Linked DNA regions of Homo sapiens. The protein of the gene in region 2 purifies or fractionates together with the protein of the main gene of each other region. This does not show direct contact. Each region holds a gene or a part of one and is shown on either strand. Other genes may lie near its edges. The genes, in order: TF, GOT1, ANXA6 and IDH1.

What was found.
Region 1: the proteins of GOT1 (region 2) and TF purify together in Homo sapiens (affinity purification with mass spectrometry; 2 studies listed by BioGRID and IntAct, with this or other methods). This does not show direct contact.
Region 3: the proteins of GOT1 (region 2) and ANXA6 fractionate together in Homo sapiens (co-fractionation; 2 studies listed by BioGRID). This does not show direct contact.
Region 4: the proteins of GOT1 (region 2) and IDH1 fractionate together in Homo sapiens (co-fractionation; 2 studies listed by BioGRID). This does not show direct contact.

Annotation. Positions count from the first base shown.
Region 1 is NC_000003.12:133,791,388-133,797,162, reverse strand, and holds the end of TF (serotransferrin isoform 1 precursor), read right to left. Parts: 3' UTR 522-5,775; downstream 1-521. UniProt on the Homo sapiens protein: Transferrins are iron binding transport proteins which can bind two Fe(3+) ions in association with the binding of an anion, usually bicarbonate.
Region 2 is NC_000010.11:99,427,601-99,435,493, reverse strand, and holds the start of GOT1 (aspartate aminotransferase, cytoplasmic), read left to right. Parts: upstream 1-4,869; 5' UTR 4,870-4,928; coding exon 4,929-5,046; intron 5,047-7,893. UniProt on the Homo sapiens protein: Biosynthesis of L-glutamate from L-aspartate or L-cysteine. Important regulator of levels of glutamate, the major excitatory neurotransmitter of the vertebrate central nervous system. Acts as a scavenger of glutamate in brain neuroprotection.
Region 3 is NC_000005.10:151,154,758-151,162,334, forward strand, and holds the start of ANXA6 (annexin A6), read right to left. Parts: upstream 3,023-7,577; 5' UTR 2,923-3,022; intron 1-2,922. UniProt on the Homo sapiens protein: May associate with CD21. May regulate the release of Ca(2+) from intracellular stores.
Region 4 is NC_000002.12:208,238,054-208,245,079, forward strand, and holds part of IDH1 (isocitrate dehydrogenase [NADP] cytoplasmic), read right to left. Parts: intron 5,552-7,026; coding exon 5,374-5,551; intron 4,093-5,373; coding exon 3,941-4,092; intron 1,951-3,940; coding exon 1,810-1,950; intron 1,181-1,809; coding exon 1,018-1,180; intron 1-1,017. UniProt on the Homo sapiens protein: Catalyzes the NADP(+)-dependent oxidative decarboxylation of isocitrate (D-threo-isocitrate) to 2-ketoglutarate (2-oxoglutarate), which is required by other enzymes such as the phytanoyl-CoA dioxygenase.

The DNA.
Region 1 (5,775 bases), on a different chromosome or scaffold from region 2:
AGAAAGACTAGATGTTATAAATTAGGACACCATCCAATGTTATGCAATTGGGATCATACAGTATGTATCATGCTTTTTCACACATCATGAATATTTACCAATTCAAAATTCCAAAGCTATGTAAATGTTTGTTTGTATACACAGCAAAGTAAAAGGAAATGCAGATATAAGGGACAACAGTCAATTGTGTCATACTGTAAACACACTGATATAAAGCCCTTTGCACTTTCTTCTGCTCCTTCCTCCCTGAATCAGCATAAATATAATGTGAAGTGGTTTGATCAATTTCCAAAAGACAATGTTTCATATGAATCAAAAGGATATCTACAAAATGTGTTATTTACTACCTCTACTTTTAACATACTGTGTGCACTTCTAAACATCTAGAAGACTAGATGTTTCAAATAAGGACTTAATTTTGTCCACTATATGTCCAGTAGTGTTACTACTGGAGGGTGTCCAGGTTCTTGGCTTCTTGAACAAATAATTGGACAAAATGCACAAACAAAGCAAGGAAAGAATGAAGCAACAAAAGCAGAGGTTTATTGAAAACAAAAGTACACTCCACAGGGTGGCAGAGGGCTTGAGCATAGGGGCTCAATAGCCCGGTTACAGAATTTTCTGGGGTTTAAATACCCTCTAGAGGTTTCCATTGGTTACTCAGTGTATGCCCTATGTAAATACAGAAGACATTTCCCATCATAGCTGAAGTGTTTCCATTTGATTTAGTTCTAGGAAGTGAGCATGCATCTGCCTTATATTCCTTGCCTACAGACCCTATTCTTCTGCCTCATTTCCCTCCAGAGATGGGATCCCCATAAATCTTTATGGGAGGTGGAGGGGCCGATGGTCTTTCTTTTGTAACTGCTTCATGTTGGCTTGAGGCCTAGTCCCTACCTATTGAGGATCACAGAAGTCCTGCTCTGCTCTTTCTAGTGAAGGCAGGGTAGCTCCTTGATGGCCAGGGGTGGTGGAACTGGATGAAACTTTTGTTGCATGATCATCTGAAGCTTGATGGTCTTTTGGCGAGAGGAAATTAATTTGGTTAAAAGATTTAATGGGAACTCAGGGGGTGGATATCTATGCTGTCAGGAATGTTTGTTATAGAGATTTGTAGGAGAAAAACAAAACCTGGCCTGTGGTCTGTTCTAGGATCTATGTGTTTCCTTAAGGTCTTGGCATACGTGACTCCGTTTTGGTTTAGTTTGGTCTGTTGGGGCCTGGCGCATGGGCTCAGTACAAAAAAATGACCTCCCATAATTTTGTTTAAAAAAAATTCCCCTTTTTGGCCAGGTGCAGTGGCTCACGCCTGTTATCCCAGCACTTTGGGAGGCCGAGGTGGGCAGATCATGAGGTTAGGAGATCGAGACCATCCTGGCTAACATGGTGAAACCCCGTCTCCACTAAAAATACAAAAAAATTAGCCGGGCGTGGTGGCAGGTGCCTGTAGTCCCAGCTACTCGGGAGGCTGAGACAGAAAAATGGCGTGAACCCGGGAAGTGGAGCTTGCAGTGAGCCGAGATCGTGCCACTGCACTCCAGCCCGGGTGACAGAGTGAGACTCCATCTCAAAAAAAAAAAAAAAAAAAAAAATTCCACTTTTTTGGTCAGGTTCTCACTTAAGTGAGAGTGTGACCAAAACTTAGGGCCTTACTTAGCACCACTCTCAGTTACCAACACTTTGGGCTTTTGGACTCAGCACATCATTCGTAGGTTACAGTGTCCTCATGGCTGCAATTTCTTTCAGCTCTTGTCATTCCAGTTGAAGAGAGGCCATTTGACATTCTAGAGGTGGCAGCATGCAAACATTTAAAACCGTTGAGAGAATACAGCACACCAGGGAGACTATTATTATGACTATCAGGAGGATAATACCAAGAGTTGAGAGTAAGTATGCTCCTTATCCAGGGTCACCATAAACCAAACCTCCTAAACTCAAATAGATTAAACAATGAGCTAAAGAGTCTACTCACTTAACTAAGCAGTCTCTTCATTAATTTGCTACAACTGAATCTCTATAATACCTGATGTTTTCTCCATAGGCCATGAGTGCCAGCAGCTGCACAGATACTCTTCTGTTTAGCCAACTCTATTATTTAGCATAACTTTCTTAAGATAATTTAGTCTATTATGTAACCATAGCCTTTACAGTAAACTGCTATGGAGCCTATTATGAGGGATACATTTGCCTCTTTTATTCCAAATCATGGAAAAAGGACCTAAAGCTGGCTGCAAAATTCTTCACAAATAAAAGTATAACCCATAATTGTACACAACAGATCCTTTTTCCACTTCTATTCTTCATAGAGGCAAAAGCAAGGAAAAAATATTCAAAGATAAGAGTCTCATGATAATAGAGAAGTCTTGATTCATGATCTTGGGAAAAGCTGTTCACATCAAGGATGCCATCTTCTTCGGGAGAGAAACTTCCCTGGTTAGCTTTACCTTAAGGGTTCCAATGGGTGTACAGTTCCAAGAGTGTGGAGGGACTCTTCTCAGTTGTGAGATCATGAACCCAAAGTTCAAAGTCCAGAAGTTTTGCTGTAGTGTGGATGGCAAGGACAGTCTTTATCCAATGTTTTCAGAAGATACAATCTTCAGTTTCTAGGTTGTGAAGGAGTTGATTGTCCTCAGTGAACCATAAAAAGCTTTCTTTACCTTGTGAAAATACTTGGTGGCATAATAACTTAGTGTTATAACATCAGCCCTCTTGCATGGGAAAGCTTTTATACAACCAGAAAACATGCACTGAAAATAACAATTGAATAAAATCCCTCTATAAAATGTTTAAATGGCCTATCAGGTGACTGGATGTACCTGAAGCTTTGATTGTTTTCCCAGGAATATGGGACCAAACATTGGTTATAAACTATTTTAGCAATTTATAAGTCACCACATCAATATATTCAATTTGGATCATTTTATCTTTTCCGTGACGAGTCATGTAATGCAGAAATTTTACTAACAAAAGCTTTAACGACTTAGGAAGGACAAGGTGGCCATCCTGGTTCTCCATGAGTTCATGCTTAATTAACATTAGACTCATATCCTCTTGAATACCAGTTGTTTCCCCAAATTAGGTGCATAACACTGATAACTGATGGGTTATCATAGGTAATTTGATTTAAATGATGGAGTTTATTCAAATTTTATATCTAAACAGTTTCAGTATCAGCTGATTTAGCATGAAAATCTGGCAAAGTATTTTCTTGGTATTTAATTAATTTTTGTTCTACTTGGGTTAGCAGTTTTAGAACTCAGTCAGTCTTTTCATTAAAGTTCCAGGAATTCTTACCCAGTTCAAATGATATAATTCTAAACTTATTAGAAACCTGTATTCAAGAGTGCTTTTTAGGGTCCTTTCCAATCTTTCATGAATCTCCTAAAAGACACCATATTCTAGGACTTTGCATGCTTGTGAAGTTTTCAGAAACTGCATCAGCATTAAGCAATTAACTGTGGAAATGACTTTAAATAGTTATAGTTAAAAACACAATTGACAAGGAAATTTGGTTATTTCTGTGGTCTACAATAACATAATAATCATAATTATGATTGATAGCATATACTCAGACATATTGGAATTTTAGAAATCTCATACAATTTTGGAACATATATTAATATTATTCACTAAAATATAACCTGAAGAAGATTAAATTTTTTTCTTTTTGACAATGCTTCCCATGTAATTAAACATGTCAAATAATTCTGTTTACCTCTCTTTTGGATGCTTCAGGGGCCCTCTGCAGCATCTCAAAGTTAGAGGTTAGAAAAGACAATTTTGAAGCTGAAATTTGATTTTGGGAAGCCTATTAAATATGTTAAAGATTTAAAACACTTGACATTATGAAATGGAATTCCAGGTTACCATAGTCATTCATTTAGCAAAATGATGACTCAAAAATGTTTTAAAAGGCAAAAACCTTTCCATGTTGATAGATGGAAGACTTACTTTACAAACAATCTGTCTCTTGTCTTTCCCTTCCTTTTTTTTGGTGGGGGGGTAGTTTATTCAAAAGGCAAACAAAGATCTTTCATTATCTTTTAATACTGCATGAAAATCTTGTTCAAGAGAGAAAGCCAAATTTCACCCTTGCATTAGTGTGCTATTAATGTCAACCCCAATTTTTAAGAAAACCTTGTAGACATATCTTTCCAATCTTAATCCGTTTGACCATAAGGTGAGATTCTCATAAACCTTTTATAATCCTTTACAAATGTTTGTTAAAGAGCAGATCGGTGCTTTAAGAAAACCCTGTTTGTGCTTTTATTTTGATGTTCAATTTATGGAAAAACCAGAAAATACCCCTTTAAATTTAGTCAATATGTTCACACACATAATTTTTTACAATATTAATTTTTATAAATCTTCCACAACTCATTCAAACTTTTAGCTTTATCCTAACTTAAAACAATCCTTTAACCCTTTAGACAGAAAAAAAAATCTACATTCCCATGCCTTGTTATAATCTTTCACTGAAAATGCATTCACTTTTCTTACGTAACTTGCATGTAAAACTGTTGCTTCAGTAGTCTCACTTACATGTTACAATGTTAACTCTTAGCGAGTTTTACTTTTGGTGAAAACTTTGGTAAGTTAAGGATTTTAATTATATATTAGTTGTGGAGTCTAGGACCCAGAGAGAAGTACACTTAAGGTCTGACTCCAGCATCTGACTCCACGTGTCTCAGGCCTTACCGAGCTGTAAAGCAGGCAAGTTGTAGAGTTAAGAGTCATAGTGGCATTTTATGAAGCATTTAGGAGGTCTAATCACCGTTAAATTGTATATTTCTTGCATAAATTCTCTTTTGTAAATTATTTCATGACTTACACAGACCATCTACGACATGCTTTGACTTTCTAACTTGTCCTAAACATCCCTCTTTTTTAACAACCGCTTATTTTACTTTAGGACACGAATTTACGATATAAGATCCTTTCTTATATAAAATCTCCTTTCTTTATAACCTTCTTTGCATAGCTAGGGGACATGGCTAATTCTATTTGTCCCCAGGCCTTATCTAGAATCTAATGCTCCAAAATAAATTGAGCAATTTTTAAAAGTCAAAGAAGCGGTTTATGACCTTAAAGCATTTTGCAAATCTAATATCTGACCTGCATAATTTAGACTAAATATTTACATTTTGAAGATATTTTTATTTTACCAATAATCTTTAAAACTGTCTTTATTTCCCAAAGATTACTTAAGTTACATGAAGTAAATAGAAGGCATTACATTTTTTACTTTTCTGATAAAATATTTGATTTAAGCTCTTATTATTATTAAGCTAATTAATTAATGCTCTTTTATAGTACACACACAACACATATAAATACACAGACAGAAGATAAAGGACTCATTCCCTAAGCCAGGAATTGAACCCTAAACCCAGGCTGCCACTGTGAAAAGAGAAAGCATGGCCACATGGTTACAAGGTCAAGCTCCCAAAGACATGACTGACCAGTCTGCTGGTGTGTCTTGAACAGCAGGTCTATGGGGTCCTAAGCACACATTTTATTCTAAGGTACCCCTCTTTATGACAAAACAATACAGAAAGACACAAAGCACACCAGATTCACTACAGCTTAAGATCGGCCTCAGAATTCTTTTTTTATATTAATCAAAACTTTACAGAGGAGATAAACAGTGACTTTTACTATTCATTTATGCAGTTTGCACAGAGAGACAGAGACCAGAGTCTGGCTGGTAAGAAATTCTTACCCTTTTGCCAGTATGCCAGGTTTCTGGGTTCTGTCTCCCAAAGCAGCCCTAGG
Region 2 (7,893 bases):
CAGATCAGGCAGACTTCAAAGAGAGTTTGCCTAACCATTAGCACCCTACAGCAACCCAGGGACGAATTTCCTCATATGACAATAGTAAAAACAATAATTTCTATAACTGTGTTAAATGTGTGTATATCAACACTAAGCAAAATTCTTTTTAAAAGTAAATTACATATAAGAATATTAAAACTCAGACACATCAAGTAATTTACTCAAAGTTTCAAAACTATAAGAGGCAAAGCTAGAATTTGACTCCAGGCCCCAGCCTACGTACTGTTCTAGTATACCGCTAGTAATTTAATAAAAAAGCTAAACAAATCTCAAAGGCAAGTGCTTGTAAACAACATCTGTGATGATAATAACGGTCCCAGTTAATACCTGAGTACTAAGTGTCAAGTACAATTCAGTTTTGTATGAAATCATTTAATTAAATTAAATCATTTAATCCTCATAGCAATCCCATGAGGTAGAACTATTATTATTCCCAGATGAGGAAACTGAGGCATACAGAGGCAATCTAGTTCCAGAGGCCATGCTTTTAACCATTATGCTAAACTGTTTCTTAAGCAACATACGAAAACTATACAACACAATTTCTAAATGGTGCCATGGAACTTAGTCACGTTCAACAAGTAAGTAAAACCATCAGTAGTTTTCAGTCCTATTGATCTATCTGTTATACAAAGATTTCAGCAGCTTTAAATAAAGTTCTGCATATGTGGGTACTCAGTTCAGGAACTAACCTTAGACCGTGTCCACTCTATGCCCTTCTATGAGGTAGGAAACAGAAAAATACCCTCACTTGGTTCAATCCATGTGTGCGGATTATGGGAGGAGTCATACGTAAGGGAGGGAAGGAGAGAACTGAGGGAAGAGAAGGAGACATGATTCCATGAAGGCACACTCACGAAACAAGCCAGTGAATTTGAGAGGAGAGGTGATAAAGGATCACTTTCCTTAGGAAGAAGAGTAAACTCATTACAGTGGGAGAACAGCAACACCTCAGGAGCCCTATGCTTATCTTATCGCACACTATTTAGCCACACTGTGCCTCTATAACAGATCTCATACGGCTTTGGTTTTTAAAGAAACATTTGCTCAGCACACAACTCAGCTTCTAAATAATATCCTACCCATAGTGCCAGCACTCACCCAAATATAACGACTCCAAAGAATGACAAACTCATCCCTCCCCTGACTTTTTCCTAAGTTTAGACCTTCGGGTATTCAGGGGCAAGACTGAGTAAAATAAGCATGTGTGGCCTGGTGCAGTAGCTCACGCCTGTAATCTCAACACTTTGGGAGGCCGATTGCTTGGCCCAGGAGTTCGAGACCAGCTTGGCCAACACGGCGAAACCCCATCTCTACAAAAATTAGCTGCGCATGTTGGTGCACACCTGTGGTCCCAGCTACTTGAGAGGTTGAGGTGGGACAATCACCTGAGCCCAGGAGGCAGAGGTTGCAGTGAGCCAAGATCGTGCCACTGCACTCCAGCCTATGCAACAGAGTAAGGCTCTGTCTGAAAAAAACCCAAAACACCATCCACATGCAGATTTACTTACAGGTTCATGCAGTGCTCACTGCTCTTCTTGCCTGTCCAGCCCTGCAGGCTTCAGATTTCCAAGACAGTATGTTCTAAAGGAATTCATTCCAGGTGATGCTGTTGCTATATGGGTTCCCAGTTCCTCTTTTCCACTTCTTTTGAAGAAAAGGTTTCAGGGACAGGAGCAGGGGAAGGCAGAAGAAAGATGCTAGGAGGACTTCTGAACAGACAGTCATAAGGAAGGCAGGAGGCAGTGAGAACACCAGGCTCTTTCTCTTCTGACCCTTACTGCTCTTTCCCTGGACACTCACTTTATCTGGCTGCCTACCTGTCTGGGCAGCATCCAGCTCTTGAGTTGTTTGCTTGAATTATCCATTCAGCAAGGAGGCAGTGTTGAGTCAATTCTAAGCAATTCTAAATTTAAAGTGTTAAAATTAGCGATGACTTGGAAAGCATTCTGTTTATTTCAAGACTGGCATTAAATTAGAGGGGCAGCCTACAAGGCTCAAGACAGAAAGGTACTGCACTTAATCTCCAAGAACCTCACACTCCCTAGGAAAGCAGTTTGAGACTTGGATCCTACATAATATATAGGCTTCCTTCTCCCCCAGTAATTGCCTTTTAAAATTCAGAGCAGATATTGTGGGGACATGGAGAAAAACTGCACATGGCACCTTCTTTGTCCCTATCAGCATTGGCTTGATTATGGGGCGGCTTAGGATGTTAATAAATATTTGGTCTTCGCCAACATTGTTTAGGTAACCTAGGGTTGTTTTTCTCCCAGGGAATGACGTAGGGAGTGACCATGATATTGCTGGCCAACGCTGTGAAGATCATACTTTTAAATCAAATTCTGGGAAGGTTAGGCTATACAATGCCCCCCTCAGCAGTTGCCCTCTGCCCCTGCTTTTGGAAGCACTGAAAGTTCGTTGTCATTTGACCTTCAGTGTTGAACTTGTAATGCTTAAAATGTTATTAGTGAAACACTGTGGGCAGTTACCTTTAAAACCAGAGGCAATGTTTTGGAAAAGAAATAGATAACACAAAAAGTTGACGGATGTTATACAAAGTTCTTTGGCTTGTGTTTATTACTCTGAATGAAAATTCATTTTAAGATTTATAGTATTATCCAGTGGAGAGGGGCTGTGATATTGTTTTCTTCTGAAACACCAAGAGAATTGACTCTTCTACCATTTGTTGAAGGCTTAGTAAGTGCAAGAAACCTAGGGAGACTCACAGGTCCCTAGCCAAAAGAAGCTACATGGCCAACAAGCATATAAAATACTCAACATCACTAATCACTAGAGAAACCCAAATCAAAACTACAATGAGATATCATCTCACACCAGTCAGAATGGCTATTAATAAAAGTCAAGAAATAACAGATGCTGGTTTCTGGTGAGGTTGTGGAGAAAAGGGAATGCTTATACAATGCTGGTGGGAATGTAAATTAGTTCAGTAACCGCGGAAAGCAGTGTGGCGATTTCTCAAAGAACTTAAAACAGAATTACCATTCGACCCAACAATCCCAGTATTGGGTCTATACCCAAAAGAATATAAATCATTCTACCATAAAGATATATGTACATGTATGTTCACTGCAGCACTATTCACAATCGTAAAGACATGGCATCAACCTAAATGCCCATCACCAGTAGACTGAAGAAAATACGGTACATATACACCATGGACTACTATGCAGCCATAAAAAAGAAAGAGATCATGTCCTTTGTAGCAACATGGATGGAGCTGGAGGCCTTTATCCTAAGTGAACTAATGCGGAAGAGAAAACCAAATACTGCATGTTCTGACTTGTAAGTGGGAGCTAAACATTGAGAACACATGGACACAAAGAAGAGAACAACAGACACTGGGACCTACTTGAGGCTAGAGGGTGGGAGGAGGGAGAGGATCAGAAAAAATACCTGTCAAGTACTATGCTTACTATCTGGGTGACAAAATAATTTGTACAACAAACCCACATGACAAGCAATTTATCTATAAAACAAACCTGTGCATGTATCCCGAACCTAAAATAAAAGTAAAAAAAAAAAAAAAAGCAGTTTACCATCTATGAAGGGTGTGGCAGATATGCAATGTTAATAATAGCTGACATTTAGAGAGTCCTTCTTACATGCAACTAACCACTTCGTAAATGTATTAACTCACAAACTCCCCACACCAACTCTGAGGAAAATACTATTATTTCCACAGAGCAGGAACTTCCACAGAGAGGTTAAAATAACTTGACTAAACCTGCCCAAATTCGTAAGCGGCAGCCAGAATCTAAACCTAGATAGTCCGGTCCCGGAGATAGGTTTTTAACCACAAAGGCATTTTCTAAAATTGTGAAAGTACAGAAGCACAGGAAAGAGACATTTTGGCCAGATAAGGGTTAAGGGAAGGCTTCATGGATGAAGTGGCATTCGCTCTGGGTCTTGAAGGTCAGCAGATGGAGAGGGCTCCTGGGGAGGAAGGACTCTAACGGGGAAGGAACAGCCTGACGAAGAGGAACTTTGGGTACCAGCCAGCTGACGACAGCAAGATCTGGTCCGGTGCGCGCGGGAGGAAGCTGGGAAGGGACGTCGCGCCCAGATCCCGAGGTCCTTGAGGACCAGGCCCTCTCTGCAAGGAATCGGGGAGGAAAATCTCAAACTATTAATAGAAGAGCGGCAAAAAGGAATTCGTGCGCACCCCTCTCTGTTGGAAGGACCTTCCCTGCCAGAGACCAAGGCTGGCAGGACAGGTATACTTCCCTCAGGGGGAAACAGCCGACAAAGGTGGTCAAGGTCGCCCGCGCAGGCTCCGGAGCTGCACGTCCTGGACGAACACTCCCGTCCCGAGCACAGACGCTGGGTATTTGGCTGCCAGCCCGGGCCCGCCAGGCCGGGCCTGGCACCGCCAACACCTGCTCGGCGGGAACAGGAAGACCTGTGTTCGGGAACTCCCTCCGGCCACCTCCCCGTATCCTCCTGGCCCTCGAAGGTCGAAAGGTGGCCTCTCAGGGACACCCGCCGCTCGCTCGGCTCCTCCCCTCAGCCGGGAGACCCAAGGAATAACAGCCTCTGCGATAGGAGCACGCTCTACCAATCAACCGTAGTCTTCGCCCACGCCTCAGCCGGAGGAAATTGCATTGGTTGCATCATTCTCGGCAGCCGATAAATTGTTTTCTTGGATTGGCTAATAGCGTTCCTTCTCCCCTGTGCCTTCGTCGTCAGAAGCTGGCGATTGGTTAATCGCGTTGCCAAGCTTTGGACGCGGCTCGACCATTGGAGGCCGCGGGCCCGCCCCCGCCGGCTAGGTGAAGGTGAGTGTCTCCTCCAGTCGCAACGGCCAGACCTGACCTGCCAGCTCCGGGCGTGGGGTGAAATCTCTTGATTCCTAGTCTCTCGATATGGCACCTCCGTCAGTCTTTGCCGAGGTTCCGCAGGCCCAGCCTGTCCTGGTCTTCAAGCTCACTGCCGACTTCAGGGAGGATCCGGACCCCCGCAAGGTCAACCTGGGAGTGGGAGGTAAGGATGTAGTGCTCTGGAGTGTGAGCAGCTCGGGGAGTGGAGCGGACCCAACCCAGGTCGTGGAGACTGTGGGAGAAGCCGAGGCCCAGTGTGGCGCTGCCTGAAGAGGGCGGCGCCGGAGAGGAGGCTGGATCCACGAAGGCTTCCTAAAACCTGCCCATTTTACAGATGCAGGTGTGGAGTCCCTGGAAAGGGGCGATGTGTCCGAGGCCGCACAAACCAGGTGTAGCAGCCAAGACACAAACTCAGTCTTTCCGATTCCCCATTCTGCCTTCTTTATACTGCATCCTCCTAAGAAATGAGGCTGCCGGAGCTTGTAGAGAGAGGTAGAAAAATAGGAAGCCTGATAGGCTTAGGGTTCTGGTTGCTAGGAAATGGGTAAAGGAGAACTTTTAACGCTAGAAAGCTCTGTTCTGAGTCGGTAAATATTTGAGTGACCACCGAGTATCAATCAGCCACCTTATTAAGCTTTGTAGGGGGAGACTGAGGCTTGATTTTGCCCTTAAGGATTTAAAAATCTGCTGGTGTTACACAATGCTTTGAGACAGGTTAATGCTGCCCCCGGGGGGTCTGGGGAGATGGTTCTGGCCGTCACAGATGTGGTAGGAATGGGTAGAGATGGTGGAAAGGAGTGGAGAGAAGTATGGATGGTAGAAGCTTACTTTCCACACATCCTATCTTCATTTCTTGATTCAAGTGATTCTCTTCTGTACCTTGGACAGCTCAGAGCATGGGCCTCAGTTTCCCCATCTGCCAAGAAGATTTATATTGGAGTGCCTCTCAAATTTTTTACCCCTAACCCTCTCTGATGAATTTGTTATTCTTCTCACTATCATTTGGATGTTTGAAGCCCCACAGACACTTATTTTCTCCATTTGGATTTTGCCACGTGCAAAGACCAGCCAGAGAGATGAAAATGGGTAGGATAAAGTCTTATGCTAGGTAATAGACTTAGAATAAAAGGACTAGAAATTGTGGAAAGAGAAGGTGGAATCATTTTGTAGCAGAGTGTGACATGAAGGACGCTCAGAATCAGGTTTCTCATAGATAACGTTTTGTCTGTGCATAGCATTTGTTAAAAAAAAAAAAAAAAAGTCGGCCGGGCGCGGTGGCTCAGGCCTGTAATCCCAGCACTTTGGGAGGCTGAGACGGGCGGATCACGAGGTCAGGAGATGAGACCATCGTGGCTAACACGGTGAAACCCCATCTCTACTAAAAATACAAAAAAGTATCCGGGCGTGGTGTTGGCCGCCTATAGTCCCAGGTACTCGGGAGGCTGAGGCAGAAGAATTGCTTAAACCCGGGAGACGGAGGTTGCAGTGAGCCGAGATCGTGCCATTGCACTCCAGGCTGGGCGACAGAGCGAGACTCTTTCTCAAAAAAAAAAAAAAGTCTTCACTAAGGAGTATGGGGAGGGGTAAGGAAAAATCCATTGAAAAGTGATGGTTTGTTGAAGCGGGTAATTTGTTGAAGCTGGATGATGGGTACATGGGCATACGTTATATTATTCTCTCAGCTTTTGTATAGGTTTGAAATTTTTCATCATAAAGCTTTTAAGATAAGTCAGTACTACATAGTTTGGCCCATTGAGGGAAAATGATGTTTTTAGCAGGCAACTGAGTGGGAGAAATGTTGAAAGATTGCCTCAAATTGAATTTGAATGGACACCATTTGGTCTCTTAATTTAAAACCAGTCCAAAACCTCCAAGCGTTTCTTTGCAGCGGGATGTATACAAAGAACTAGTATTACTGTCAATCTAAATACATCTTTTTAAAACGTCAGATTTTGCCTGCCACGGTGGCTCACGCCTGTAATCCCAGCACTTTGGGAGGCCAAGGCAGGTGGATCACCTGAGGTCAGGAGTTCGAGACCAGCCTGGCTAACATGGTGAAACCCCATCTTTACTAAAAATACAAAAATTAGCCAGACGTGGTGGTGCACACTGGTAGTCACAGCTACTTGGGAGGCTGAAGCAGGAGAATCGCTTGAACCTGGGAGGTGGCGGTTGCAGTGAGCCAAGATCACGCCATTGTACTCCAGCCTGGGTAACAGAGTGAGACTCCGTCTCAAGAAAGAAAGAAAAAAAAAAACAAAAAACCACGTCAGATTTATTTTATTAATTCAATTTACCTTTGAACTATCTTACAGGGTTTCTGTGAGGATTAAGTACATTTAAAGTGTTTATAGCTGTATTTGGCACATAAGTAGGATTTATATAAGTGTTAGGTATTACTGTTATTGTTGTTTTGGCATTTCTTTGAGTGATTCTCATAAAAGATATTGAATAAAAATTTTCAGTTCAAGAACTGCAAAATGAACTAATTTATGACCTTGGTTCAGAAATAAACTGCTCCTGCAGAGAAAAAGCACCCCGACAGCACAGGCCAGAAGCAATGGACTCAGAATTGGAGTCATTGACTCAGACGGCCACCTCAGCTGTGAAGGTGCCTTTGTCATGTTTTCCAGGAACTCCAACTCCTTACCATGAGCAAATTATTTATGCATGTAATCTCACTGAATGCTCACAACTCTGGAGGGTGGTTTATTACTATTACTGTTTAGAGGCAAGGAAGCCGAAGACTGGAGAGGTGAAGCAATTTGCCCCAGGTCATTTGACCACTGGGTGGTAGAGCTGGGAATCCAGGCCAGGTCTCTCAGGCCTCAGAGTCTCTGCCCACACCTGTATTTCAGGTACCTCCAGGTGGTAGCCAGTACACTGTAGTGGGAAGAGCCAGGAGACCTAGGTACAGGCCCAGCACCGTGGTCCAGCCATGTGACTTGGAAGGGTTGTTTAACATCCCTGGGGCTCATCTGTTAAATGAGGAGCCAAGATTGAATGACCT
Region 3 (7,577 bases), on a different chromosome or scaffold from region 2:
GGCCTCAGGAGATCATCTCTCTGCCTCAGGATTGGAACTAGTCTAGCCTAGGTTTGAACCCCAGCTTGGGTCACTTTTGTGAGAGGCAGCAAAGTAGTGTCTCACAGTATAGATGCTGGAGCCAGACTGCCTGAGATTGAAGCCTGAGGGTGATATTTAGTAGCTGTGTGGTGTTGTGCAAGTATTGAGCCTCTCTGTGCCTGTTTCATATTAAAAAAAAAAAAAAGGGATAAAAATAGCACCTCCCTCATAGGAGTTATGATGAGGATAAAAAAAATTAAGACAAGTCTAGAGCTTAGAAGAGGACCTGGCACACAGGAAGCACTATATTTTATAAGCATTTGTCATTATTATTTCTTCCTTAAACTGTTAAGGGCTGGAGTTTCCATGTCTGCAAAATAGGCATTAATAACAGCGTCTAACATAGCAAGGCTTCAGCCGGGGCCTGGCAAATTTAAGGGTTCGAGAGGTAATAGTGGTTACCATTTTATTGCTATTATTTAAGGACCACCAGGACATGGATTTTTCAGAAGAGGAACTTGAGGCTCAGGTCGCCTGCCTTCTCAAGCACCACACCCTTTTGAGATAACACAGCACTTTTATATCTGCCATCTTACAGCCTCATGAAGGTATCGATCTCATTCTCATTTTGCAGATAGGCAGGACATCCAAGGAACCTATAGACAGTCACTCCCCCATAGCCAGTCTCTGTGGGGGCTTCTCAACTCCAGGAGGAAAGGGAGTGAGGCTGGATTCCAAGGCAAGTTTATAGGCATAAAGACACCCCTCCGACTTCCTCCCCTCTATTGGCAGGAGAAGGGGTGCATGCATGCTCAGGAATCACGGTAGAGACCACATCCTGTGCTTTGTCGCCACCCAGGAAGTATATCGGAGAGGCTGGGTGGGGTGAGGCTGGTGATTCCACTGGGCCTCCCCAGAAAATCCTAGAATGGTAGAGCAAAAGCCATTCAGACCCAACCCATTTTATTAATACCAGTGGGGTGTCCTGGGTATATGTCCTATCCCTGTAGAGAGGAAGGGGCTAAGCCCCAGAGGGGTAGTAGGTGTGCCCAGGGCGCCTAGCTGATTAGTGGCAGGGCAGGGGCTGGGTCCGAGGCTGGATCCTGGTGGCCCAGGGCTCCCTCTGGATGCTGCAGTGCGGATGTGCCAGTCACTGGCAGCTATCCAGCACTGCAGTCTCCCCCACTTCATCCCAGGAGTCAGTCTCAAGAGGCCAGGCCTTGGGCTTCCCTGGCCCCTCCTCTGCACACTCACATCTACATTTTGCCCCAGCAACAGCTGTGGCCCTTATCCAGAAACTGCAAGTATTTTCTGTATCTCAGCAGATGCTGCCTTAGGAACAAAGGGTAGATAAGGCAAAGAAAGATGGATGAGTGATTGTCACAGCTGCAGAGGGGGATGAAAGCCTCTGCCTCCTGCCCTCCCCAGTCCCATCCAACTCCCAGAATCCTAAATCTTAGAACAGTTGAATCCTAGAATGTCTGCACTGGCAGTGGCAGCCAGTTCAGCAGACTTTGCTCCAGATGGGGCACAAAGCCTTAGAGAAAGGGCTTGCTCAAGAAGTCCCAGCACATCCGGACTGTAACCGGGCTTTCCTCTGACCCCAGGCCAGTGCCCTCGGCGTGGCTCAGGGCCTGCCTGCTAGGAGGTCAGGGTCCACAGGGGCTGAAACTGGGGCGGTCATTCACTTCACCATGAAGGGCTACGCAGGTCAGGATATGCCATCTGGGTCAGTGGAAGCAATCCCAAGCATGTTTTGGGCAAGGGGGAAGGAATAATGGAGGGAAAAGGGCGGACTCTTGGGGGGAAACCAGAGTCCTTTCACAAACCCGGGAGCCATATGTCCAAATTTGGAATTGTCAGAGAAGACCCACTAGAATCTAGGGAAAGGAAGGAGGAGGCAGGAAGCCGTGGCCAGATTAGTTGTCCCAAAGGACCTCCTGCCCTTTCCCCTTGTAGGGCCTACAAGGGTTGTGCCAGGCTTCCCAAATCTATAATCAAGACTCCCAAACCTGCAATCATTCCATACAGCTGACAAATAAATCAGTTTTCAAAGCCATTGTTTCCTTTGAAAGAGACTGGGTTTCTCAACTATGGACTTGGAGAAGGAAATCCAGGCTCAGAGAGGGAAAGCCACCGCCCAAAGTCACACTGCAACAGGGGCTGGGATTCCGATTCAGGGTATTTTGCTCCCATGCTGGTATATGGGGAATTATTTGAAGCCCCCAAACTTTGGGAAGGCCTAGACCGCTTAGGGGATGCAGAAAGAAGGGTAGTGCCCCTGCCTCACCATAGGAGGCCTCGGAGCCCCGTTGGGAGACTGCATTCATAGACAAGCAGTGGCCCAAAGGGGATGGGGTCCAATGAGGCCCTGAGGTATGTACGACCGGACGTTCAGCTCTCTGCACGCAGGCAGCCCTCCCCCGACACCACACACAAGCCATTTTATAAGCAGCTGGAGGGTCCAACGCTCTTGCTCTCAGTCTTGGGCCTCAGCCACACCCTTCTCTGCGGGTCCTTTGACTGGCGTCCAGCTGACCCCAACCCCGGACCTTCAAAGTCTCTTGAGCCCCCCCAAATTAAGGCCGGCAGGACCAGCCCCTGGCTCAGCTCCGGCGCCCAGGACCCTCAACCAGACCCTCTGCAGCAACGGGACTCCCTCCCCTCCCCCTAGCCAGGGCGCCCTCCGCCCGCGCCTCTCCGCCCCGACCCCAGATTTGCTCCGCTGCGCTCCCCAGACACACCCAGTCTGCGACACTCTCGGGTTACCGCGCCCTCCCGTCCCTGCTCCTGGCGGGGGGTACCCATCAGCCGATGACTGGGCGCTTATTTCTTGTGTCCCTGCAGCCCCCGGGAAGGGGTTCCCAGAGCGACTCCCCTCTCCAGCCTCAGCCCACTCACCGCGCAGCGGAGGCCTCGGGTCGCAGACGGACGCACGGGCGCAGGGACTCGAGGACGCAGCGCTCGCTGGATCGGAGCCCGTTAGCCCAGCAGCAACCGCAGCGCGGGGCGGACCGGGAGGACAGCCGTGGGCTCCGAGCCGGACACGTGGCGCGCAGAGGCCAATCCGGCGCGCCCGCCTCCCTCCTCCACCCCACCCCTCTAGCTCCTTAGCTCTTGGAATCTTAGAATGTCACTAGCCCGAGGGGCTTGCCGGGAGAACCTCCTCAGTTTCCAGCCCCCGGATCTGAGACTGAGAAGGATTAGGGGCTTTGGCCAAGGTCACGCGGCCCTTCAGGGCTAGAAGTCAGGGCTCCTGACTCCGGGTTCTGGACACTTTCCCGCAAATTCTTATAAGTCGCCAAAGCTTTGTTGAGAAACAGAAAATTGAGGTTTGCCAGGGGCACTTTATCTGCCTGATCAGATTCCATGCCTCAACAGCCTCATTAGGTCGGTGACATTATTTACCCACTTTCAGGAGGAGAGCCCAGTCCAGTTCCTGGACCAAGGTCACACAAATAGTGGGTTGCGGAGGCAAGCTTCTTCGTGCTCTGGGAAGCAGGGAAGGCAGGCAGGGAGACCAGCAGTTGTAATCCAGCGCTAGAACAGGAAAAATTGATAAACTGAGAATACAGAGGAAACTGAGAATTATTGTCCCCAGGGGATTGGTAAGGAGAAGATGAGGAAGTTAGAAGAATTGGACAGATACCTGCGGAAAGTGTTCCAGGCAGAGGAAACTGCTGGAGCAAATGCTCCTAGCAGGAGGCCACCTGGCGCCTCCGAGGATCAGCAGGGGGGCCAGTGTGGCTGGAATGGAGTGAGTGGGAGGGAGAGGAGAGATAAGAGGGACCCAATCAGGTGGGACCTCCGGGGCCCTTGAAGGCACGCTGTCTTTTACTCTGAGTCAACTGGGGATCCATTGCAGGATATTGAGCAAAGAAAGGGTATTATTTTTGGGTAGATGAAATCCACACAACATAAAATTAACCATTTTAAAGTCAACAATTCAGTGGCATTTTGTACAGACACAATGTTGTGTATCCACCACCTCTATCTAGTTCCAAAATATTCTCTTCACGGAAAAATAAAACAGTATACCCACTGAGCAGTCACTCCTAACTTTCCCTTACCCCTCGTCTCTGGCAACCACCAATTTGCTTTCTGCTTCTGCGGATGTGCCTATTCTGGATATTTCATATACATGGAATCACATGAGATGCAACCCTTCTTGTCTGACTTCTTTCATGTGGCATTTTGTTTGTTTGTTTTTGTTGTTGTTTTTTCACTCTTGTCGCCCAGGCTGGAGTGCAGTGGCGTGATCTCTGCTCACCACAACTTCTGCCTCCTGGGTTCAAGCAATTCTCCTGCCTCAGCCTCCCGAGTAGTTGGGATTACAGGCATGCGCCACCACACCCAGCTAATTCTGTATTTTTAGTAGAGACGGGGTTTTTCCATGTTGGTCAGGTTGGTCTTGAACTCCCGACCTCAGGTGATCCACCTGCCTCGGCCTCCCAAAGTGCTGGGATTACAGGCGTGAGCCACCGTGCCTGGCCTCATGTGGCATGTTTTTGAAGTTCATCCACACTGTAGCATGTATCAGCACTCCATTCCTTTTTTTTTTTAGTTTCAGTTGGAGTTTTGCTCTTGTTGCCAAGGCTGGAGTGCAATGGCGTGATCTCGGCTCACTGCAACCTCCACCTCTCAGATTCAAGGAATTCTCCTGCCTCAGCCTTCCGAGCAGCTGGGATTACAGGCATGCACCACCACGTGTGGCTAATTTATTTTTGTATTTAGTAGAGATGGGGTTTTACCATGTTAGTTAGGCTGGTCTCGAACTCCTGACCTCAGGTGATCCACCCGCCTTTGCCTCCCAAAGTGCTGGGATTACAGGCATGCGCCACCGTGTCCGGTCCAGCACTCCATTCCTTTTAATGGCTGAATAATTTTCCGTTGTATAAGTACACTATAATTTGTTTATCCATCCATCTGTTGATGGATAGTGCATTGTTTCCCCCTTTTGCTGATTGTGAATAGTGCTGCTAATGAACATTTGCATACAAATACTTATTTGAGTACCTGTTTTCAATTGTCGTTGTGTATTTACCTAGGAATGAAACTGCTGGGTCATATAGTAATTCTACATTTAAGTTTTTGAGGAACTGCCAAACATTTTTTCAGAGTGGCTGCAACATTTTATATTCCCATCAGCCATGTCATGTATGAGGCTTTTAATTTCTCCATGTCCTTGCCAACACTTGTATTTTATTTTTTAAAAATTTGTACCCGGCCAGGCACAGTGGCTCATGCCTGTAATGCCAGTACTTTGGGAGGGCCGAGGTGGGTGAATTGCTTGAGCCCACGAGTTTGAGACCAGCCTGGACAACATGACGAAACCGCATCTCTACAAAAAATTAACCAGGGGTAGTGGCACATGCCTGCAATCCCAGCTACTGGAGAGGCTGAGGTGGGATGATCCCTTGAAGCTGGAAGGTAGAGGCTGCAGTGAGCCGTGATTGCACCACTGCACTCCAGCCTGGGCGACAGAGTGAGAACTTGTCTCAAAAAAACAAAAGTACAAAAAACTTGTGCTCTAGTCATTATGAAATGGCATCTATAATTGTGTTTTTGATTTGCATTTCCCTTCTGACTAATGATGTGGAGTATCTTTTTTGTGTGCTCATTGGCCACTATTTGTACATCTTCTTTGGAAAAATATCTAATCATGCTTTTTGCTCATTTTTAAATTGGATTTTTTGTCTTTTTTGTTGTTAAGTTATATGAGTTCTTTTTATATTCTGGATAAGACTTTTGTGTTTGTTTGAGACAGAGGCTCGTTCTGTTGCCCAGGCTGGAGTGCAGTGGTGCCATGTCGGCTCACTGCAACCTTCACCTCGTGGGTTCAAGCAATTCTTTCCGCCTCAGCCTCCCAAATAGCTGGGATTACAGGCACCTGCTACCATGCCCAGTTAATTTTTGTATTTTTTTAGTAGAGACGGGGATTCATCATGTTGGCCAGGTTGGTCTTGAACTCCTGACCTCAGGTGATCCACCTGCCTTGGCCTCCCAAAGTGCTGGGATTACAGGTGTGAGCCACCGCACCTGGCCAAGACATATTTTTTAAAGGGTCACTGAAGTCTCCTGTGTTGGAAATACTGAATACTGTTGGGGGAAGAGTAGAAGAAGGGGATCTGCTAGGAGATTTTGCAGTAATCCAGGCAAGAGACAGGCTGGTATAAATGCAGGTGGGGGAAGTGGTTGGAGATGGGATGTATTTGAAGGTTGAACATGATTTCCGAAGGATCAGGTGGGAGATGAGAAAGAGTCAAGAATGGCTTCAGGGATCCTGGCCTGAGCCACTGGAAGGATGGAGTTACCATCAACTGAAATGAGCAAGACTGCAGGGAAAGCAATTTTGGGAATTAGAAGTGGGGAAAAGATCAGGAGTTCAGTTTTTGACCAGTTTGTTGAACATTTCTATTAGACACCCAACAGGAGATGTCAAGTACGCAGTTGGCTAGTCAAGTCTGGAGTTCAAGAGATGAGATCCTTAAGGGAGAAGAGAACTAAATATGGAGTCCTAGTTCGGCAAAAGGAGTCAGGCTGGCAGGACCAAGGGAAAGCAAAAAGAGAAAGCAGATAAGCTATAAGTCTGCCTTTCTTCATGGCCCAGGATGCATAGCCCTCCTGTGCGAATAACTCACAATCTTATCTGCGCCCAGCTATTGCCAGACCCTCACCTGATAGAAAAATGCACGCAAGCTCCCTGCACCCTTGATGTTATCAGTACTGCACAAAGCCCTCTTCAGCACACAGCACAAGCACCATCCTATAAAATCCTTAGCCAGATTTTGTTTTCTTGCAGTTAGCTTCTGTTTTGCTAACTTGCCCGTTGCACCCTTGCAACGTATTTTCTTTTCTTTTCTGTTTTTCTTTTGAGATGAAGTCTCACTCTGTCGCCCAGACTGTAGTGCAGTGGCACTATCTCGACTCACCACAACCTCCGCCTCCCGGGTTCAAGCGATTCTTCTGCCTTAGGCTCCTGAGTAGCTGGGATTACAGGTGCGTGCCACCACACCTGGCTAATATTTGTATTTTTAGTAGAGATGGGTTTTCACCATGTTGATCAGGCTGGTCTCAAACTCCTGACCTCGTGATCCACCTCGGCTTCCCAAAGTGCTGGGATTATAGGCATGAGCCACCACGTCTGGCAGCAATGTATTTTCATACTTTCTCTAATAAATCTGCCTTTCTTTACCTACAACTGCCTTGGTAAATTCTTCTTACTGCCTGTACCGCCAGCCCCAAATAGTTGCTGATCACCCACGATGCTAAGGACCGAGTCTGAGACACTCTTATGTTACCATTTGGGGAGAGGCCGGACCCGGTGGCTCATGCCTGTAATTCCAGCACTTTGGGAGGCTGAGGTGGGTGGATCACTTGAGGCCAGGAGTTCAAGACCAGCCTGACCAACATAGTTAAACCCCATCTCTACTAAAAATACAAAAAGTTAGCTGGACGTGGTGGTGCATGCTGTAATCCCAGCTACTTGGGAGGCTGAGGCAGGAGAATCACTCCCAGGAGGTGGAGATTGCAGTGAGATGGCACCATTGCACTCC
Region 4 (7,026 bases), on a different chromosome or scaffold from region 2:
GAGATGGAGTCTCGCTCTGTCACGCAGGCTGGAGTGCAGTGGCACCATCTCGGCTCACTGCAAGCTCCGCCTCCCAGGTTCACGCCATTCTCCTGCCTCAGCCTCCCGAGTAGCTGGGACTACAGGTGCCCGCCACCACGCCTGGTTAATTTTTTGTATTTTTAGTGGAGATGGGGTTTCACTGTGTTAGCCAGGATGGTCTTGATCTCCTGACCTCGTGATCCACCCACCTCGGCCTCCCAAAGTGCTAGGATTACAGGCATGAGCCACAGCACCCAGCGAACACTGCAATCTTGTTGGAAATTTAAATTAAGAAACATGCAGTGACCAAGTATATCCCCATTATGGGGTATACTGACCCTACCTGGGACCTCTGCAGATGCACTGGTTGAGATATGGAGACAATCCCCCCAGGATACTGGCTACTATGTTCTCAGAAAAATTCTCAGTAAACATATGGGCTGTCAAATATTTGCCCAAATATTGGTTACAGATACTTAAGGGACTGTAATCAATTGCACACCTTAAACTTGTGCTGCTCACTTTTCTCATCAGTAAGTTAAAGAAAATAAAGGAGTAGAATAAAATAGCCTCTGAAGTATCTTTGTTTCTATTTGTCTATAATCTGCTTCTTAAAATTAAATAGAACCTTTTCGTTCAATGATTATCAACTAGATGGGATGTCAGCAAATTACAGCCCAGCACATGAACCAAATCGAGGCTGGTTTTGAACATAAAAGTTTGATTGGTACCAGCCACACCATTTGATTCTGTATTGTCTATGACTGCTTTCCTGCTACAATGGCAGAGGCAAAGTTGAATAGTTGTGTAGTTGCAAAAAGACTATATGTTCCACAAAGCCTAAAATGTTCACTATCTGACAATTTACAGATATCTGCTGACTCCTGAACTAGATGATGAATAACAATTTATATAATTCCAGAAAGCACCGATGCTCTGAGCCCAGTGAGGATAAGTGTTAATTTGACCATAGAAACTAGGGCATCTTATACTTACTTGGGTAAACCTTTAATGCAAGCAGCCAAGTCCTTGGTCATGAAGCCAGCCTCAATTGTCTCAATAGAGACTTCTTCCAAAGCATTTGCAAAGAAGGCAAGCTCTTTATTGTTATCAAGCTTTGCTCTGTGGGCTAACCCTCTGGTCCAGGCAAAAATGGAAGCTAAAAGAGGGGAAAAAAAACACAACACTCCAATCATCCTAGTTATAGAGGTTTCCAAATGTCTCATAGTTCCCCAAAACAGAATAGTTTTTTGTTTAGGTGACAGACTTCTTTAGATACTAACCACATGGGCTAGAAGTTTTAGGAGAGTTAGAAATATTTTACCAAACAGAAACTTTAAAAAAACACATTTTCATGGCATGGTACTAGTGTTTGAAACTTAAGGCATTTTCTAATTTGAAAAAGGTCACAATCTCTTCTATCTCTTGTCTATATTGGTCTCCTTTTTCCAGGCTGTAATCTCTTTTTGAAGTGCTATCTTTGAAACTTGTTAAAAGGATCTATCCATGTGACTTTTAGATTTGTAGCCTTATGTGACATTTCACTGCACCAGAGGTAAAGGAAAATGCTTGTTGATAACATTCCTCTCTGTAACCTATGTTCTCCCACAAAACAGAAAAGCAAATATTGTATATTTTAAGAAGCATATTCAAATAGATCTTACTAGTAGAACAAATCAGCTACTTGGTGATGACTTTGCACACAAAACACTGAGCAGCCAAGGGAACACATCTGGGCTGCTTTGGAGAGCACTCTCTGGTGAGAAATCAATGTAAACACCATCTTACCAATGGGATTGGTGGACGTCTCCTGTCCTTTCTGGTACATGCGGTAGTGACGGGTTACAGTCCCGTGGGCAGCCTCTGCTTCTACTGTCTTGCCATCTGGACAAACCAGCACGCTGGTCATCATGCCGAGAGAGCCATACCCTGTAAGTAGTGGAGCATGAAGCGTTGGGTCCAACTGCATGAAGAGCACTGAGTCTCTCAGAGATGAGAGCATAAATGACTCAATCTTGATAGGTCTTGGTAAGCAAAGTAAACAAGAGCACATGGAATCACCAATAATTCTGCCTTTCAGAAGGCAGGATCCCCGCTCCAGATATCAGAGCCAATGGGTCTGGAAAGGCTGCATTTTCCCCTCACTTATTTCAGGGATACCTACTCCTTGATGGAGGGTTCAGGGTCCAACTGCCTACATTCCACTCTAGTTCTATGACTTCATAGCTACTGCGGCTCAGTTTTCTTATCTGTAAAATGGGAGTAATAACAGCACCTACTTCACTAGGTTGCTGTGGGATTAGATAAATATACATATATTCATAAATATATATGAATATATATTTATATTCCTTAGAATAGTACTGGACACAGAGCTCAATCTATTATTGTTATTCTTATGTGCAATGCTCTGCTGTTCTGGGGAAATAAAGATGGACGAGAGCTGTCTCTTAAGAACCCTCAAGCTGCTCATACACTTGCTGGGACTGGGAAGAGAAGGCAGGTAAACACAGGATCGGTTGGATCTAAGAACATCCCAGTTGCCCTTCCTCGCTCTCTTTCATACCCTCAGTACAACAGTTCTCTTCTGTGGTTTCTTATTGAAAGAACCACATTACAACTCTTATATCTATATAATTGATTTTCTTCTTTTCTCCATTTTTGCTACCTCCCAACATCACCTGTGAAGTTAATAATCAACCACGGAGTCATCACAAAGCAATAACACTCCTTCCTCTGTTGCATTCAGTACAAATGATTGTGAGGATGTAGAGAAACAGAAGGATGGTAAGGAGAGTTGTGTAACTCATTTATCTGGCAAAAAGTTATCTTTAACCAGGTTGATCTACTGATTTTCAAACTGAGAGGAGATGTTTAACACTGATAAGAGACAGAAAAAGTAGTACTTCTTGGGAAAAACAAACATAATTAAAGTTAACAAACATTCATCTGGGGAGATTCAAGTTCATACAGCTACCAAGGGCAACTGAAACTGAAGGGCAACTTGGTGCTGAGGAAACCAGGCGCTGTGTTTCTGTTGATTTGGCCCTTACCCCATGCATGAAACTTCTCCTGGAATTTCTGTAAACAGCCCCTAGGGTTCTTTGCTCAATTGATTTGTGTGTAAGCTAAGCAGTAAACAAAAACACTTTTTCTTTGTTGTTGTTGAGACAAGAGTCTTGCTCTGTTGCCCAGGCTGGAGTATAGTGGCGTGATCTCAGCTCACTGCAACCTCCGCTTCCCAGGCTCAAGAAATTCTCATGCTTTAGCCTCCTGAGTGCCAGGGACTATAGGCATGCGACCACACCTGGCTAATTTTTTTTTTTTTTTTTTTTTGAAGTAGAGATGGGGTTTTGCTATGTTGGCCAGGCTGGTCTTGAACTCCTGGCCTCAAGTGATCCACTGCCTTGGCCTCTCAAAGTGCTAGGATTACAGGCGTGAGCCACTGTGCCCAGCCAAACACATTTGTTTTATATTCTACCAGAACAGCAGCTGGCAGAGGGACATGAGTAGGTCCTGCTGCCCAATAAATGAGCTTTGCAGGCACCAAAGCTTGGTTATGACATGATCAAGCTCCTCACTTTATCCCTCCTTGCCTGAGTGCCCTGGTTTTTTACATTTTCACCAAAGGACAAGGAGGGCAGGGAAAGGGAGTGATTTTCAGATCAGGTAGGCTTTAAAACTTCAAGGAGTGACACTGGAGCCAGGAGTGTCAATCCACTAATTTACTTCCCATGTGGTCTTGAGTAAATCATTTCTCTAGTCTGAGCTTAATTTCCTTAGCTGTCAGGTAAGACGGTGGACCTGGAGGTTTAACATTCCAAGATTTTACAACAAAGGACTACAAAACTCCCCTTCCCAAATTAGAGAACTACCCTGGAATGACCCTGTTCCTACAGGCCAGGCTCCACCTCTGTACCTTGGGCCACAGAGTCCGACTGCACGTCACCATCATAGTTTTTACAGGCCCAGATGAAGCCTCCCTCTGATTTCATAGCTTGGGCCACCATGTCGTCGATGAGCCTATGCTCATACCAGATCTTTTGAGCTTCAAACTGGGACTTGTACTGCCTGGGAAACAAAAGGTAAAAGAGAATAATAATAAAGAAAATTGATTTTGTTAGGGATATCATCTGCTTGTCCCAAACAGAAGACCGGACACACAAGAAGCAGCATATTTTAGTAGAAGTAGCAGAAACTCAGGAATCTGACAGACATTGGCTCAAATCCTAGCCCAATCATTTTCTAACTGTAAAACTCAATTTGACTATCTGTAGGAACAATTTTACCCACCTTGCAGGGAAGCCGTGAGAATTAAGTGAGACAGTAGAGTATCCCAATGACTACTTCACTTTTCAGTTTTCATTATACTATAGATCAGATTCTTGAGATTCAGCTTATTTTTAAAATACATTTTTGAAAAGACTGTTCTACTTCTTGGTGTCATTCAGGAAACTAAAATATATTCCAGACAGTTTCTGGGCTTGGTATAGATGGGCAGCAGGAGGAGGAATCAAAATGCCTCAGGAACATTTTGGCCTGAACACTTGCACCTAAAGGGAGTTATGCCAATCTTAAATATTAACACATGCTCACCTCCTGTGCTGTGGAAGCCAGTGTTGTTATAAACTTAGACTTAAGTTCAAATGACTCCACTAAAACAGAATTTTAAATTCTTTTTTTTCTTTTCTTTTCTTTTTTTTTTTTTGAGACGGAGTCTCGCTCTGTCGCCCAGGCTGCAGTGCAGTGGCGTGATTTCGGCTCACTGCAACCTCCGCCTCCCGGGTTCACGCCATTCTCCTGCCTCAGCCTCCCCAGTAACTGGGACTAGAGGCGCCCGCCACCACGCCCGGCTAATTTTTGGTATTTTTAGTAGAGTCAGGGTTTCACCGTGTTAGCCAGGATGGTCTCGATCTCCTGACCTCGTGATCCGCCCGCCTCGGCCTCCCAAAGTGCTGGGATTACAGGCATGAGCCACCGTGCCTGGCCAACAGAATTTTAAATTCTAACAATGGGCTTCAGAAAGAATGGAAATGGGTCTGACTTAGAAACTCACACATGAAAAATTAGAACTTATCACTAACAGCGTACGTTTATTTAAACATTAAAGAACCTGGCTCTGAAAACAATTCATGTGGGGACCTTATTTAAGAACATGTTTATCTTATAAAAGCAAGTCAGAGTGGTTTTGTTTCACTCCTGCTAAACCTCAGTTTTGCCCTTATCTTTAAGAGACAGTGATGATTTTCACTCAATTTACCCAGAATCATAGGGATAGGGAGATACATACTCTATATGCAAATGTCAGCTTACTTGAGAATAAAGAAAAAGTTAAAAAAGAACTATAGTTACTTGTCATATATCTCCTGAAAGATGTCTTTAAAACGCCCATCATATTTCTTCAGAATAGTGTTTTTGGTGCTCAGATACAAAGGCCAACCCTTAGACAGAGCCATTTGGAAGGAACTGTGTGCAAAATCTTCAATTGACTTATCTTGATTATACATCCCCATGGCAACACCACCACCTTCTGTAGAGGAGAAGCCAGTGAGAGGAAAAAAGGGAGAAGAATAAATGTAATGTAGTTGTAATAAGGCTAAAATCACCCACCACAACCAAATGACCTACTTCTCAGCTCTCACATCTGAGACTAGATTTCAGAAGTCCCAGACAGGTTTCCAACAAATTTCTGAGGCACATAATGAGAGAAAAGCCAGTTCTAGATAAGGACATTCTAACTTGTTTTGGAAGGACAGCAGAAATGAAAAAACATACAGTCTTTAAAATCCTGAAGATGCAGAAATGCCAAAAACTGATATGAACCAGAAATACATTTAAGAAAAGGCAAATAATTTTGAAACTTCTTTTACATACTGATATGGTTTGGATATTTGTCCCTTCCAAATCTCATGTTGAAATGTGATTCCCAGTGTTGGAGGTGGGGCCCAGTGGGAGGAGATTGGAACATGGGGTTGGATCCCTTATGAATGGCTTAGGACCATCCCCTTTGGTGATTACGTGAGTTCTCGCTCAGTTAATTCACTTGAAATCTGGTTGTTTAAGAGTCTGGGACCTCCCCCTTCTCTTTCTCTTGTTCCCGCTCTTGCCATGTGATACACCTATTGTCTGTTTGCCTTCTGCCAAGATTGGAAGCTTCCTGAGGCCCTCACCAGGAACAGGTGTTGGAGCCAGGCTTGTACAGCCTGCAGAACCATGAGCCAATTAAACCTCTTTTCTTTATAACTTACGCAGCCTCAGGTATTTCTTTATAGCAACGCAAGAATGGACAAACACCCTACCTTTACAATTCCCAACATCTATTTTAAACTTTAGGGGTGTACTCAATCCTCAGTTATTGAGAAAAACTTAAATTTCAAATACTGAATGAAAATTCTTATAATCTCCTGGAGGATACTGAGCACTCCTACTGTAGTTGGTAGAAATAAGTAGAAATAATTATGCTACATGTAATCACTGTGTTTTACAACTATTATTGAACTTTGTTATTACTTAAAGATAGAACTTGAATCCATGCCAATGCTCAGGGTTAACTTGGGTTCAGGGTGAAAGGTGCTGAAGCCTGCAGAACCAGATTCCAACAGATATTATTTGGAAGAGGCAAGAAAAACAAAAGGTAGGTGAGTGTTGGGTATTTTTGTTTGTGTGAGTGCTTTCAACAACTTCAATAGTGAAGGAAAAGGGCCCACTAATTATTTCAACAACTTTTGGGTGGGATTTGCCATCAAAGGTAGCAGGGTAGCTGGGAAAGAAAAGGCAAAAAGCAAATGTTCTACTTTTTCACAGGATAAATACCCAGAAGGGCAAGAAGAAAACTTCAGCAAATATATAAGGAAACCTCTTCCAGATACAAGAGCCCTACCAGAGCAAAGGGCAGGATTATATGCTGGGTGATTTGAGAATATTAATATTTAATGTATATAATTCATGCACAGCAGATTTCTGCCAACCTTCTCTCTGTGCTTTAAGATAAATGCATAATCATCT